Linked DNA regions of Homo sapiens. The protein of the gene in region 1 purifies or fractionates together with the protein of each later gene. This does not show direct contact. Each region holds a gene or a part of one and is shown on either strand. Other genes may lie near its edges. The genes, in order: CKAP2 and KIF22.

Region 1 (7,880 bases):
GGCCCTCCGAGGCCGCGAGCAGCGCGCCAGGCAGCCTGCGGCGCCCCCTAGCGTCGGACGGGACGGAAGCGAGTCGGGGCGGGTGAGGGACGGAGGGAGCGGCCTGGCAGCGAGCGGGCGCGGCTGCGAGGTGCGCCCGGGGACGTGGAGACGTGCGTGGAGCGCCCCCTGGCGGTCCATTAGCCGCCGGCCTTTCAGAACCCTTGATCAGCAGGCGGTCCACCCCATTCTAAATTCAGAGCTTACAGGGACGCGAGGGAGCCCCGACCACAGCTTGGACTTGCTTATTGTGCATTATGCCTGCATGTTTGTGGCAGTTTTCTTGTCAGTGCCCAGAATGTTGCTACATTCGCTAATGATTGTAAATAATCATAACCCCTCTCTTTCAAATGAATATTTATGGCACGCATTGTTTCTGTACAGCTGCAGTCAGTACTACCTGTGCTGCTCTTTTTTTCCCTTTAAGATTATATTGTAACACAAAGGATAAATGCTTGAGGTAACGGATACCTCATTTACCCTGATGTGATTATTATACAGTGTATGCCTGTATCAAAATATCCCATATACCCCAGAAATATATACACCTATGTACCCACACAAATTAATTTTTTTTTAACTGGGGGAAACAGATTTTATTTAACCGGGCTTGATGCGCGCGCCTGTATTCCCAGCTGCTTCCGAAGCTGAGGCGGGAGGATTGCTTGAACCCAGGAGTTTGACACCAGTGGGCGACATAGAAAGACCCTTTCCCCCTCCACCCCAACTCCCCCACGCCACTCCACTCCCCCACCCCCAGGCTCAGAAAAAAAAGATTATTTTTATTTAGGCATTTTCAATATTAATACAGACCTCATGCGTGAATTTACATTTCAATATGTAGTTCCTCTATAATTTAGCTGTTTGTTGGTCTGCGCAAAGCCATCCATGGCCGCTGCTCTCACCCACCAGGCGGCCTCGTGCCCCTAGCCATTTCATTTTTGTATTTTGCTTTATAAATGGAACACCTGGCCGGGCGCGGTGGCTCACGTTTGTAATCCCAGCACTTTGGGAGGACAAGGCGGGCGGATCACAAGTCAGGAGTTCGAGACCAGCCTGGCTAACATAGAGAAACCCTGTCTCTACTAAAAATACAAAAAATTAGCCCGGCGTGGTGGCGGGTGCCTGTAATCCCAGCTACTCGGGAAGCTGAGGCAAGAGAATCGCTTGAACCCTGGAGGTAGAGGTTGCAGTGAGCCGAGATCGCACCATTGCACTCCAGTCTGAGCGACAGAACGAGACTCTGCTTCAAAAATAATAATAATAAATAATAAATAAATAAATAAATGGAGCAGCTTATAGATGTCCTTCTACAATTGATACATATTTTTCTCTTTAGGATTATTTTCTTACAGTGTCTTCCTAAAATAGAATGACTGCTTTAAAGGTTGTGAACACATTTTAGAGAGCCTACCACTTATTGGGGTCTTAACTAAGGCTGCGTGCCCACGTGGGCAGAGGGGCACAGGGGCAGAGGGACAGAGGGCAGGCTTGCTCTCTGCCCCCAGGGCTCCACATTTCCCCCAGTCGTGGAGTCAGTGGTCTGTGGCTAGGCATTAAAAGAAAGGAAAGGCTCTTTCCAATGAGTATAAGCCATCTCTCCCCCGAAATGAATTGCTACTTTTACCGTGTTCCAAAATCCTGTGTGTATTTTGGTCTATTTCTAAACAGTGTCTTCTGTATTTCATATCTTTCAATTTCCATCATGACCATATACCCAATAACCAAAAGTTCTTTGAAAACATTTGATTTGCTGTAATATGCTATCAATATATATCACAATTTACCATCATTGCCTGATTTTTGAGCATTTGATTGTTTACCAACTTTTTAGTCTTTTTTAATTGAAAGTAATGTGACCTAAGCATCCTAATCAGATGTGGAACTGTGCAGTTATGCCTGGGCTTTGCAATTATCAACATGTTAGGCAGTGAGGACATTTGCAAGGTATGTTTTCTGCCCTTGAGGGATGTACAGTCTGTAGGACACAAATAGAAGCCTGGCATATGATAGCTGCTGGGATAGACAACCGTATAAGGGTTTCCTGTATCCAGGCTGGAGCAAGGAGAAACGTCATGTGGCTTATATATGGCAATAAATGAATAGACAAAAGGTTTTAATTTTTATGAAGTTCAGTGTATTTTTTTCTTTCATAGTTCATGGAATTTGCCTATTTAAGAAATCTTTTTTCCACAAACCAGATATTGATACTGATTATGAAATCTTTGCCTAACACAAAGTCACTAAGATTTTCTCCTATAATTTCTTCTAGAAGCTTCATAGTTTTGGTTCTTACATTTAGGTCTATGCTTTTTTTTTTTGAGACAGAGTCTCACTCTGCCGCCCAGGCTGGAGTGCAATGGCACAATCTCGGCTCACTGCAACCACTGACTCCTGGGTTCAAGCGATTCTCCTGCCTCAGCCTCCCGAGTAGCTGGGATTACAGGTGCCTGCCACCACGCCTGGCTAACTTTTGTATATTTTGTAGAGACAGGGTTTCACCATGTTGGCAAAGCTGGTCTTGAACTCCTGACCTCAGGTGATCCACCCGCCTTGGCCTCCCAAAGTGCTGGGATTACGGGCATGAGCCACCACGCCCAGCCATCCCCAGGATGTTTTTGCCAGGACCTCCCACCTTCTGAATCAGATGGTTCCTTTCAGTCCCAATCCTACTGGACCTCTGTAGTGCCCAACACTGTGGTCCATTACCTCTTTCTTCAGCTTCTCTCTTCCCCAGACTTTGTGACCCCATTGTGTCCCCATTGTCCTCCTAACTTTCAGATTGTCCTTCCCTGTTCTCTCACAGGCACTTTACCTTCTTCACATGACCACAGGAGGAACGACTAACACTAATTAATCATCAGTACTCCAGGTGCCTGCAGTTTCATGGTCAGCTGTGTTGGCAAAGAACTGTTCTGAAAGGAAATCTTTTTTGTTTTGTTTTTTTTGTTTGTTTTTTGGATCTTTTAGAAAAAGGTCTGCTTTCTCTGCAATAATTGTGTAGCAGTAATATTAAAAAGTGTCTCAAAAATAGACATATCATTGGAGTGGGTGAGTCTGGAGATTAGAGGAGAATTGCCATTTTGAAAAACCTAGCAGTTTGGCAGGTTTTCCTATTCATCTCAGCCTACTGAGATCTCCATGGTATCCTTTGAGTCAATTTCTTTTTTTACCATGCCCACTTATAAAAAATTATTGAGGTTCACATAACATAAAATTAATCATTTTAAAGTGAACAACTCAATGGCATTAATACATTTACAATGTCACCCAACCACTACCTCTAATTCCAAAACATTTCACTTACTTCAAGGTAATGAAACCCTTGTCCATTAAACTGTCTCCCAATTCTCCCCCTACCCTCAGCCTCTGGCAACTACTATTCTGAGTTATTTCACTATGGATGTATCTATTTTAGATCTTTCATATAAATGGAATCATACCATATGTAACTTTTCATATATTACTTCTTTTACTTAGCATAATGTTTTGGAGGTTTTTGAGTCACTTATTAACGCTGTATTTTGTTCTCACTTAATAGAAATCCCTGGTTGCCCCACCTGTCTGATGAAACTTTAGTAAATAATCAACAATAATGACAGACGTATTTAAACAGCAAGTTATATCTTAAGGATGGTGATGGACAATGTTAAACTAAAACTGGGACATTTCATCAAGTAAAAAACTACACAAAATCTCAAACCAAATTCCTCATTAGCAAGACGCTACCATAAGATGTCTGAAGAAAAAAGCAGGCAGAAGTGGGAAAAACTGACCACAGCCGAGGGCCAGCTGTGGAGGCCCTCAGACCTGGGAAGGGTAAACGGGGAAATCACATCCTCCCGTCTGTGTGCCCGGAGCACCTAAAACCTGGCTGAAAGAGTCCAGTCCAGCCTTACTGCAGTGATCAGGCAAGAAATGTAAACCCAGTGCTTGAAACCAGGCAGGTGCAGTCCAGACTCGCCCTCACTTCCCCACTGCCACTCTTAAAACCTTCTAGCCCTGACTTGTTTCGTTCTGTCATGTGGATTGAGTGTTTGTGTGGGTTTTATGAAGGTGGTATTTTTAGATGAGAAAAACGAAGATTATGGCGGCACACTTAACCACACAAACACAAAACGTCTGTAACAAATGCTATTTTATCTTCAAAGGAGAATTATATATAACCTTGAGGAGGGGATGAGGTTTATCTTCATTTTTTTCTGTTTCTCCTCCTCTCCTCCCTTTTTTGCATTTGATAATTGCTTAGAATAAAGGTATGGAAAGTAGATCCCAATTTCAGTTCCCCTTCACACGCTGTGCAAACGTGGACAAACAACCTCTGAACCTGTCACCTCTCAGTGGAAAAAGTGGTGATAACGTCCCACCTCAGAATTGATGCTCAAAATGAAGCAGTATTTGTGAAACGAAAATACACACGCTCGTGGTACGCCAGATCGGTGTTTACGTCCTCGTCAGTGAACGCGTCGATGTTTAATAAGAAGGGCAGCCAATCAACACTTTTCTTGTCTTTTTCTCGTCTGCCTTCCTCCAAGGACTGTGAGGGTCTCAAGATGTGTCCCATCTCGGTTGTTTGTCAACCTAGTCCTGCTATGTCGTGGGGACTGAGCAGGCCGACTCCTCCCCCATCGCACGTCCAGGATGAAGAGCGCTGTTTAGGTTTGAAACCTGCAGACTCAGTCCCAACCGAACTGGGCAGACACCAGACCGGCCCCGGCAACTGCAGTCCAGGCTCCGCCTCCCTACGCCCATTGGCTTATTCAATTCACGCAGGAACCAATGGGCGGAGACGGCAGCCGCGCCGTCTGACGGCTTAGCCGCGGTGCAGACTGCGGCGGCGGTGGTCTGAGGAAGTTCTATCTTGGCGCTAAAGCGGAGACGCATCCCCCGACCCGAGGCTACGATGAGCACACCGGCCGTGCCCCAGGACCTGCAGCTGCCCCCGAGTCAGAGGGCGCAGTCCGCATTCAAAGGTGAAGGCCGCGGTGGCGGTGGCGGTGGCGGTGGCGGTGGCGGTGGCGGGCGCGGGCCCGGCGGTCGGGGCTCGGGGCCGCGCTGGCGCGCTTCACCTCTCCCCCGCTCTGTGAGATCCCTGAACGCGGCGTCGGCCTCGCCCTGCCTCATTCTTGGCCTTGTGGAACGGATCATAAAAACAGGAACCGCTGCGTGGTGTTACTGTGCGGTCGCTGCTGGCTGGGATGGGCCCTCCTAAGAAGGAATCCGTTAGGCGAGGGGAAACGCGCGGGCCTCAGGCCGGGGTCGGTGTCGGAGACCCTGGGTCCGCTTGGGGGCGGGGCTGCACAGGTTCAGGGACCGACTGCGCCTGCGCTGGGTCCTCCGCCTCTTAGGTCCCTAGCGAATTTCTGCAGGGCTGGGGTCGCATCATGTGTTATTTCCAATTTCACAGCTTCTCCTTCGACTTTATGGAAACCGAGGGTTGGTTGGGTCTTCAAAACTAATATTGTTATTCCCTTATTCTACACACGGGAAAGCAGAAGAAAGTAATTCTCATCTAACCCAGTTCTGGTAAATTAGAACTTTCGAGTCTAGTGCCTCACTTCTACCATTTAGTTTCTTAAAGCTTGGCTAGCAGGAGCTGTATGTAGAAAATGATGTTCTCCAGATTTTTCACAGGGAGTAGAGAATGTGATTCTTATGCAGAGGGGTTTTGGGGACCTGTTGTGGTAACAGTCTCTTCTAAGGTGATTTCTCAAAGGCAATATTGAATTGGAGAATTTTCTGTTATATAGATGTGACCTCAGGTGGAACCAGCTTTGGAAGTAAACTCTTCATTTAGTCAACAAGATTTATTTGCCGTTATCGATGTTTTAACTAATATTGACTTGTAGCTCTTACCTTTGTTATCTAGAGCAAAGAAGACAAAAACTCAAGGAACATCTGTTGAGAAGAAAAACGCTTTTTGCATACAAGCAGGAAAATGAGATGTTATCCAGGTAAGGTCAAGTTTATTTCTTTTCACTTCTGTAAAATTGTATCAGATCTGTCCAATGAAAATGTAAAGTAAGCCATATCTGTAATTTTAAATTTTCTAGTAGCCACATTTAGAAAAACTGCTTACATATTATTTTACGTCTTTTTGTGGTACAACGTCTTTAAAATCTGGTGTCTATTTTACAGTTACAGGACATTTCCATTTGGTCTATCCACATTTCAAGCACTCAGTAGCCACATTGGCTAGTGGCTACTTTATTGGATGGTGCAGCATTAGATCATCGTTTTATTAATTTTTTTTTTTTTGAGACAGAGTCTCACTCTGTTGCCAGGTTGGAGTGCAGTAGCGTGATCTTGGCTCACTGCAGCCTCCACCTTCTGGGTTCAAGTGAATCTCCTGCCTCAGCTTCCCAAATACCTGGGACTGACTACAGGCAAGTGCCACCATTCCCTGCTAATTTTTGTATTTTAAACAGAGACCGGGTTTCACTATGTTGGCCGGGCTGGTCTTGGACTCCTGACCTTGAGATCCGCCCACCTCAGCCTCTGAAAGTGCTGTGATTACAAGGATGAGCCACCGCGCCCGGCCTAGATTATCGTTTTCTACGTAAATTAATTCACAGTCTAAGAGAAAAAAACAATTATAAAGCAAAGTATGTGCATAGACTAGATTATCAACTTACTGTTTACACCACACAAAGGTCAGTCTTTCTATTATTTAGCAAAGCTTTTTACTCAGTGTATGGGGGAGTTCATCAGGGAAGGGTTGGGTGGCCCTCCCAAATGCTTAGAGATTACTAGTTGTAGTCTCAACCCTCCACAGAAATATCTTTATTATTTTGTTAAAATATCTTAGATAGTACATAGCTGTAGCAAAAACAAAAACCCATGAAAGTAGATGAAGCAGAAAGGCAAAAGGTCCCCTCACTCTCTAGGGATAACCAGTAATAACATCCTTACAGGCTTAGGCTGGGTGCTGTGGCTTACACCTGTAATCCCAGCACTTTAGGAGGCTGAGGTGGGCAGATCACGAGGTCAGGAGATCAAGACCAGCCTGGCTAACACAGTGAAACCCCGTCTCTACTAAAAATACAAAAAATTAGCCAGGCATGGTGGTGGGTGCTTGTAATCCCAGCTACTGGGGAGGCTGAGGCAGGAGAATCGCTTGAACCTGGGAGATGGAGGTTGCAGTGAGCCGAGATCGTGCCATTGCACTCCAGCCTGGGTGACAGAGCGAGACTCCGTCTCAAAAAAAAAAAAAATTGTCTCAGGTAAACAAAATTGTATATACCACCCACACACATATTCAGAGAGTGGAAATGATAACGCAAATGGGATAAAAATTTTAACAATAGGTGGATCCTGGGTAAAGAGTGTACAGATATTCTTTGACCTGTTTATATTTTTGCAACTTTGTGTAAGTTTGGCATTCTAAAATTTTAAAAATAATTTCTAACTTTATATTAATAAGTTGCTTTAGTTTGGAATAAACAGTTTATCCTTCACAAATAAATCTTTTATTTCTTTGTTTAAGACAAAAAGGTGATCCTAGGTTTTTTATTTGAATAAGTAAATGAATGGTGATAACCGTATACTGAAATAGGAAGCCTGAAGGAGGAGCTGGGGAATTAGGAGTTCTGTTTTGACTATGTTTGAGGTACCAACCAGACATCCAAGCAGATATGCCAAATAATTGTGTGTCTGAAGTTCAGGGGAGGGGTTGGGGCTGGAAGCATAAACTCAGGAATTGATTAGTATACAGATGATATTTACTTAAAAACCTTAGGATGGAATGAAATTACTAGGGAATAAGTAGAGATAATATGGATTCAGACAGTGACTCTCAACCACTTATTTAAATAAAGAATCCAACAAGGTCAGGGGTTTAT
Region 2 (7,523 bases), on another chromosome or scaffold:
CTTTGCTTTGCTCTCATGGATCTGAAAGATCTGATCCAGATCACTCCTTGAACCAGAAGCAAAAATGCTCATCCTTGAAACAGCTGTCCCAAAGTGAGAAGTTTTGCTGAAGGCTAAAGGGGTTGGAAAATGGAAAGGATCCCCAGGAGGAGGCCTCCTTAGGTCCCCAAGGCAGCAGCACTGAGGAGAGATTAATCTTAGACTTTAGTGATTCAATGGAGTAGAATTTGGGGGGAATTTATTTATTTACTTATTTATTTATTGAGATGCAGTCTTGCTCTGTCACCTAGGCTGGAGTGCAGTGGCATGATCTTGGCTCACTGCAACTTTCACCTCCCAGATTCAAGCAATTCTTCCTGCCTCAGCCTCCTGAGTAGCTGGGATTACAGGTGCCCACTACCATGCCTGGCTAATTTTTGTATTTTTAGTAGAGATGGGGTTTCACCATGTTGGCCAGGCTGGTCTTGAACTCCTGACCTCAGGTGATCCACCCGTCTTGGCCTCCCAAAGTGCTGGGATTACAGGCGTGAGCCACCGTGCCTAGCCAGGGTTGAATTCACTTATTTACTTTGAGACGGAGTCTTGCTGTGTCGCCCAGGCTGGAGTGCAATGGCCACAATCTCAGCTCACTGCAACCTCTGCTTCCTGGGTTCAAGGGATTCTCCTGCCTCAGCCTCCCAAGTAGCTGGGATTACAGGCACATGCCACCACATCCGGCTACTTTTTGTATTTTTTAGTAGAGATGAGGTTTCACCATGTTGGCCAGGCTGGTCTCGAACTCCTGACCTCAGGTGATCCACCCAACCTCAGTCTCCCAAAGTGCTGGGGTTACAGGAGTGAGCCACCGCATCCGGCCTAGGGTGAATTTAATGGGAGAGGAACAAGATCACAGCTCTCTGCTCAAGGATCTGACGGGCATTGCAGCTCTGCTGCTAAGCCATACATCAGGAAGGGGATACACCCAAGGCCCCACTGCTCACCTGAGTTTCTGGGAGGCAGAGGCTGGAGCTGCCATGGGCTCAGGGCTCCCGATCTCCTCTTCCTCAGGGCCTCGGGCTCTCTTTGCCTCTGGTGGACCAAGCAATTCTTTCTGAGACAGCTTAACAGGTCCCAAGGCTAGATGATTGGAGGATGGGGTGGAGAGAGGGATTGGGGGTGGTCAGCCTCTGTGCTGATGCTTGGTGGTTTCAACAAACTCCCTAATTTCCAGACCCAGCGTTTCCACTCCTGCCTCCCCCAGTTCTCACCATGAGGCTGCAGGCTCTCATTGGTAAAAGGCCGATTGATCACCTCCTTGGACCTGGCAGCAAAGTTGAGTGCGGAGACTGTGTCTAGGTAGAAGCGTCTCTCAGGGGCAATGTTGGCAATAAGGATACTGTGGGCTGAGCCACCCAGAGAGTCCTGAGGGTGAGACCAGGCAGTGGGTGGGTCAGAAGCCCAGCCTTCCTATGCCTCAACTGCTATTCCCCACCCCACAGCAGGCCTGAGAACCTCCTTCTGCAGCCCCTTCTTCCCTGAGACAGGTGGGCCTGACCTGCAATAGGCGAGTGAGCTTGCTGTCCCGATAAGGTACACGAGGGAGGCCCTGATTCAGCGCATCTACCACTTTGCCCAGGACAAACAGGGAGGTGTTGATGGCTCCACTCTCTTTTAGCCGAAGGCCCTTGTTGCCTGTGCGCCGGTTGTCCTCTGACCCAGCCAAGTCAATCAGGTAGAGTTTTCCCTCTCGCTGGCGAAATGGGGCCAAACGTTCCCGCTGGTCCACCTGGGGGTAAGAACAAAGGTCTCGTGCTTAGCTCAGGCTCCTGGGCTTCCCAGGTCCTCGCCCCTGTCTGCGGCCTCACCTTGACCAGGAGCACAGCATGACTGCGGGAGGAGCGCTGGTTGAGCCGGGTGGCTCCTACAGTCCGATTTCGACTGGCTGGCAGGAAGTGCCGCTCAAAATCAGCAAAGCTACTGATGGGCTTCTGGGAGAGACCCGGAATCAGGATATTCCCCCGGCAGTCTTCTCGGATTACCAGGTCTCCCGAAGCAGGGTCCAGGAGGTCTAATACCTGTGTAAGCAGTGAAGGGGAAGGGCAATTCTCCATAGAGAGGCTGTTTCTTCCTGGGGATCAGTTTCCTTTCTCTGTTCTATTCTCGGAGTTGTACCATCTGCTACCCCAGTCTCTGTCTTTCTAGGTCTCACCTTACCTCCCTGCTACAGCAGAGCTTCATGTTCTAGAACCAGGTCTTACTTTGACCCTTTGTTGCTCCTCTCCCAACCAGCACGGGGCCTCACCTTCTCCTGGTAGATCTCTAGGTAAGACATGGTGACAGAAAGGGCCCATGGCCGGCCCTCGGCACCCTCCTCCCTTGTGAGCTGCAGGAGGTCCATGAGAGCCCGCGGGATCACCCCAGGTTGCTCTGGGCTGCCCAGCATTGTGTGCGTCTTCCCTGGGAAGAGAGTGGAGAAAACTGTGAGGTTTTCCTCTCCGTTTCCCCAGCCCTTTCTGACCCATAGCTGTTTCTTTTCTGGCTCCCTCACCAGCTCCTGTGGGTCCATAGGCAAGCACACTGGCATTCTGCCCTTCCAGCAAGTGCCTTAGGATGGGCTGCACTGAACCTGCATAGATGTCCTGCTGAGTACTCCTCTCCCCATAGAAGGCATCAAACCTGCAGGAAGAAAGAAAGAAATTAGCGTGTGTGTGTGTGTGTGTGTGTGTGTGTGTGTGTAAGGGGTGGAGTGGGGTGGGGGTGGGTAAGGGATTCTACTCTCATCTGGACCTTGGATTTAAGAGAACGTCTCTATCCCCTTTCTTGTACAAAGACCTTAAAAAGCATCCACCTAACACCTACTCCATCCTCATCTCTCTATTGGTGTTAGGAATACAGAGATAGATCTGATATCCCTGCTCTTGGAGTTTTTCAGTCTGGTAGGATAGATATCCACACTTTGCTGTGATTTAGGAAACGAAGATAAGAACACACTCTCAAAGGAGTAACTGATTCTGCTCAAGGAAGGAAGATTTTGACCAAAGAAAGAAATTCTGAGAATCAAGAATAGCAAAAAAGCAAGGCTTCCCAGTCTTTTTCAAATGGCTACATGTGTAGAACATTGTATTTTACACCATAATGGGGAAAATAGAGGATGCTGCTTATGACTGAACTAGACTCTACATACCAATCACCTATCCACTGCGTTCTGGTGGAGAAGTGCAGCTTAGGCCACAGCAGGGAGTTTAATATATATTGAGGGAATGAGGCTGGAAAGAAACTGAAGCCCAAATTGTTAACGGCCTAGTATGGGAGCTAGCAAACTTCTGTAAAAAGGCAGATTGTACATATTTTAGGCTTTGTGGGCCATGTGTTCCTTTTACAACTACTCAACTCTGCCACTGTAGTCAGAAAGCAGCTATAGACAATATGTAAATAAACGATAAAATTTTATTTACTGAAAATCTTACTCCTGATCAGATTTGACCTGCAGGCCATGGTTTGCCAGCCCCCGCCTAGAAAAACAGGCCAAGGAGTTTGAACTTTAAATCCCCAGTAGGATTATAAAGTAGCTGCCCTTCTGAGTTCTGTCCCCAAATCTGGGTGGTCTTCTCTGACACTACCCAGCTGCAGCTTGGGTAGGCTGGCTGGCAGGTCTGTGTTCCGCCAACCCTCCTGATATGTCCCCCAGCCTCTACTTGGGGCTCACCTGCTCACCCTCATTGCTCCTCCCTCTCTGTGCACAGTAATGTATGTTTGATTCAACCTCTCATCTCTCCCTACAGTATCCCAGAGAGGGCCCATCATGGGGGCACCTGTCAACATTTCCTAAGTGAACAGTGAAGGCTCAGGGAACAAAGCGGTGCTAAGGAGGGAGCAAGGATCCTGGGGAGGCAGGGGAACGTGGGCAGGCCTAGGAGAGGGAGGTGATGGCATGAGGGAAGAGGAGTGGCCTGAACCTTACTGGTATTTGAGAGTCTCCTGGTGGTTCCTCCAGTTAGCAATCTCTAGAGAGCAGCTGTCCATGCCCCGCACACAGGGGGGATCACTTGCTCCCGCTGTTCCATCCACAAATGGCCGCAGTCGCACAGCCACCCTTACGCGAGCTGGAGGTGGACGACGAGTAGCTCCAATCTTGCTTAGCCGACAGCGACCAGCTCCTGGAGGAGAGAAGATCACTTTTAGACATGAAGTATGGTGGTAGCAGAAGAAGCAGGGACCAACTTTGCTGGGCGGGCTGGGGGCCACAGCTCATGTTGGAGAAGCTCATTCTGCCCTGGTCATGTTGTGGACACCCCTAAGCTTGGCCTCAGTGCCTTCCCTGCTCTACAAGCAAGTGCAGCAGGTGTATAGCAGGCTTCTCAGACTGTAATGTATACACAAATAACCTGGAGGATCTTGTGAAAATGTGGATTTGGTCTCCGTCTCCCTGGGGTGATGCCCGAGATTTTGCATTTCTAACAAGCTCCCAGGTGATGCTGGGCACTTAAAAAAAAAAAAGAGAGAGAGAGGGATGGAGTCTCACTAGGTTACCCAGGCTTGTCTTCAACTCCTGGGCTCCAGCGATCCTCCTACCTCAGCCTCCCAAAGTGCTGGAATTATAGGCAGGAGCCACCATGCCTGGCCCAGGACATGTTTTGAATTGCCAAGGGTGAAGTAGACCAGCACCTCACAGGGTTGTTCTAAGGATTAAAAGGGTTGACATCTGACCGAAACCTAAACCAGAGAGCGAACTGCCAGAATTTTCTGTGTGTGTGTGTGTGTGTGTTTTTTTTTTTTTTTTTGAGACAGTCTTGCTCTGTCACCCAGGCTGGAGTGCAGTGGCATGATCTCAGCTCACTGCAACCTCCACCTCCCAGGTTCAAGCGATCCTCCCACCTCAGCCTCTCGAGTAGCTGGGATTACAGGTCCCCAACACCACTCCTGGCTAGTTTTTGTATCTTCAGTAGAAACAGGGTTTCACCATGTTGGCCAGGCTGGTCTCAAATTCCTGACCTCAAGTGATCTGCCTGCCTTGGCCTCCCAAAGTGCTAGGATTATAGGTGTGAGCCACCCTGCCCAGCCTGTACCTCCATTTCTTAACTGGGGTTTCTAATATGTATTGAGACGTATGTATACTCACAGACCCACCCACCCCTGCAAACTGTTAATGATGATCTTCTCTTGATGGGGAATTATGTGGGTTCTGCAAAAACCACCGACATGCAATTCTTCTCTCATGTAAACTTAACCCTGAATTTGCTTCAGATGATTAAGTTTTTTTTGTTTTGTTTTGTTTTAGAATTGGCAACTGAATTATTTTTATCATCAGAAAACACAATGAAGATAAAACTTAAAAAAAGAAAAGCCCTCTATTTTTGTGGGGGTTAAATGAGCTGAAAATATCTAAGGAGAGTATTACTCTATTTTACGTTGGAGGATAACATACTGTAGCTCATAGTGGAATTCAAACCTAGATCTCTTCCCCTCTAAAAATCTGCTTTTAATAGGATGCTGTATTGCTTCCTTATTATGTACCAACTGGGAAAGCTCCTGGCAGCTCTTTCCCTTCCTTGCTGGTGGTAGCAGCTGGTTGCTAGGAGCCATAGGCCTCGCAGAAGGCAAAAGGCTGGCTGGTATACGTAGCCAACACAGAAACAGCAAGACGAAAAGGCAGACAGATGACCCCTACAAAGAATCTTACACCTAAGTAAGGCATGCCCATAAGCAGACGGGCTGTTTCAAAAACTGAACCTCCATTCCATCATCTGATAAATGGGGCTACTAATACCATTTCTCACGTTATGGTAGCAAAGCGCTTGGACATCTAGTTCTCATTTGTTCCTCATGGCAATCCTGAAAGTCAGGAGCAAGCAGGTAAAAACCTGCAGATGCATGTGTGCAGATAGAAAACTGAGGTGCACTGACTTGTCAAAAATATGTGCAGGACCTTCCTCTGCCTGCTTTCACAGGATGTTTTGGGAGAACAGAAAGATGGCAGATGTAGAAGCACTTAAGGAAGCGCAGTGATCAATCTAAGGGGAAGGGGAAGTCAGTAATGAGGTAGAGTGTAGACTCTGGTCAGACAGAAGTGGACTTCAATTCCAGCTCTGACATTTATTAGCTTGTGACCTTGGACCTTGGTTTCCTTGTCTGTAAAATAAGGTTGGGGGTGGGCCTTGGGCTTTTTGAGAATTTGGCCGGGCGCAGTGGTTCATGCCTGTAATCCCAGCGCTTTGGGAGGCCAAGGTGGGCAGATCACCTGAGGTCAGGAGTTCGAGACCAGCGTGGTGGTGAAACCCTGCCTCTACTAAAAATACAAAAATTAGTCAGGTATGGTGGTGGACGCCTGTAATCCCAGCTACTTGGGAGGCTGAGGCACAAGAATTGCTTGAATGCGGGAAGTGGAGGTTGCAGTGAGCAGAGATTGCGCCACTGCACTCCAGCCTGGGTGACAGAGCAAGACTGTGTCTCAGAAAAAAAAAAGATAATTGAAATAAGTGCCAGATAAAGTGGCAGCACAGTGACTAGCACATAGTAGGTAGGTTCATCATTCAAGGTAAAATGGCCTGGGTTGAAATCCCAGCTCTGCCATTTACAGCTAGCTAAGTAACCTAGGGAAATTATTTTCCATCCCAGTGCCTCAATTTCCTTACCTGCAAAATGGGAATAAAAATACCTCTTTGTTAGGTTGTTAGGAGAGTAATTAAGGTGATTCATGTAAAAGTGCTTAGAACATTATCTGGTATTTGGTGAAAGGCCAGTAAGTGCTTTTTAATGTCCGTCTCCCATTTTCCAGATGAGGAAACCTCAGTATAGAGGGGTTAGCTGACTGACCCAGGGTCAACAGCTAGTGACTGACAGCTTCAAATGAAGATCTAACTCCAAAGTGCTTTATATGAACCCTCCTCAGCCTCCTTAGCCCCTTCATCTTTGCATCTCATAAGAATGTGAGGATTCAAAGTAATAATGTACATACAATGTTTAGCACAGTGCCTGGCAGCAACTGCTCAGTCCTTAGCTGTTATTATTACACCCTTTCTCTTGCTACCCACTCCTCCATCCCTGCAACTTGCTTCTGCCCTCACTATTCAGCAGGGTCACCCATGACTTCCCTAGTGCTAGATCCAGTAGGCATACTCAGCCTCAATCCTGTTGGACCTCCCAGAAGTATGCGACACTCTTGGGAAACACACTTTTCCCTTCATTTCCATGCCCCCCACCTTCCTGGTTGTCTTACCTAGTTTTCTGTTCACTCCTCATCCTAGGATCCGTCTATCCTTTCTCTAGACCAGCATTTCTCAACTTCAGCACTACTGACATTTCGGGCTGGCTAATTCCGTTGTGGGGCTGTCCTGTGCATTTAGACTGTTAGCATATGCTTACTAGATGCCAGTAGCATTCTCCACCCTCACCCTCAAGTTGTAACAACTAAAAATCTCTCCAGACATCTCCAAATGTCCTGTGAGGGACAAAGTTGCCCCGAGCTGAGACCACTCAGATTCATTTCATAGGCAGGTCACCCGCCCTCTTGGCTTCAGTAACATCTTACAGCTGATAAGTCCTAT

Evidence for each region.
Region 2: the proteins of CKAP2 (region 1) and KIF22 purify together in Homo sapiens (affinity purification with mass spectrometry; 2 studies listed by BioGRID and IntAct, with this or other methods). This does not show direct contact.

Annotation. Positions count from the first base shown.
Region 1 is NC_000013.11:52,450,615-52,458,494, forward strand, and holds the start of CKAP2 (cytoskeleton-associated protein 2), read left to right. Parts: upstream 1-4,863; 5' UTR 4,864-4,942; coding exon 4,943-5,012; intron 5,013-5,373; exon of another isoform or gene 5,374-5,565; intron 5,566-5,908; coding exon 5,909-5,993; intron 5,994-7,880. UniProt on the Homo sapiens protein: Possesses microtubule stabilizing properties. Involved in regulating aneuploidy, cell cycling, and cell death in a p53/TP53-dependent manner.
Region 2 is NC_000016.10:29,793,506-29,801,028, reverse strand, and holds part of KIF22 (kinesin-like protein KIF22), read right to left. Parts: intron 4,137-7,523; coding exon 3,941-4,136; intron 2,656-3,940; coding exon 2,528-2,655; intron 2,437-2,527; coding exon 2,282-2,436; intron 2,055-2,281; coding exon 1,845-2,054; intron 1,766-1,844; coding exon 1,535-1,765; intron 1,402-1,534; coding exon 1,248-1,401; intron 1,117-1,247; coding exon 981-1,116; intron 856-980; coding exon of another isoform or gene 807-855; exon of another isoform or gene 227-806; intron 1-226. UniProt on the Homo sapiens protein: Kinesin family member that is involved in spindle formation and the movements of chromosomes during mitosis and meiosis. Binds to microtubules and to DNA. Plays a role in congression of laterally attached chromosomes in NDC80-depleted cells.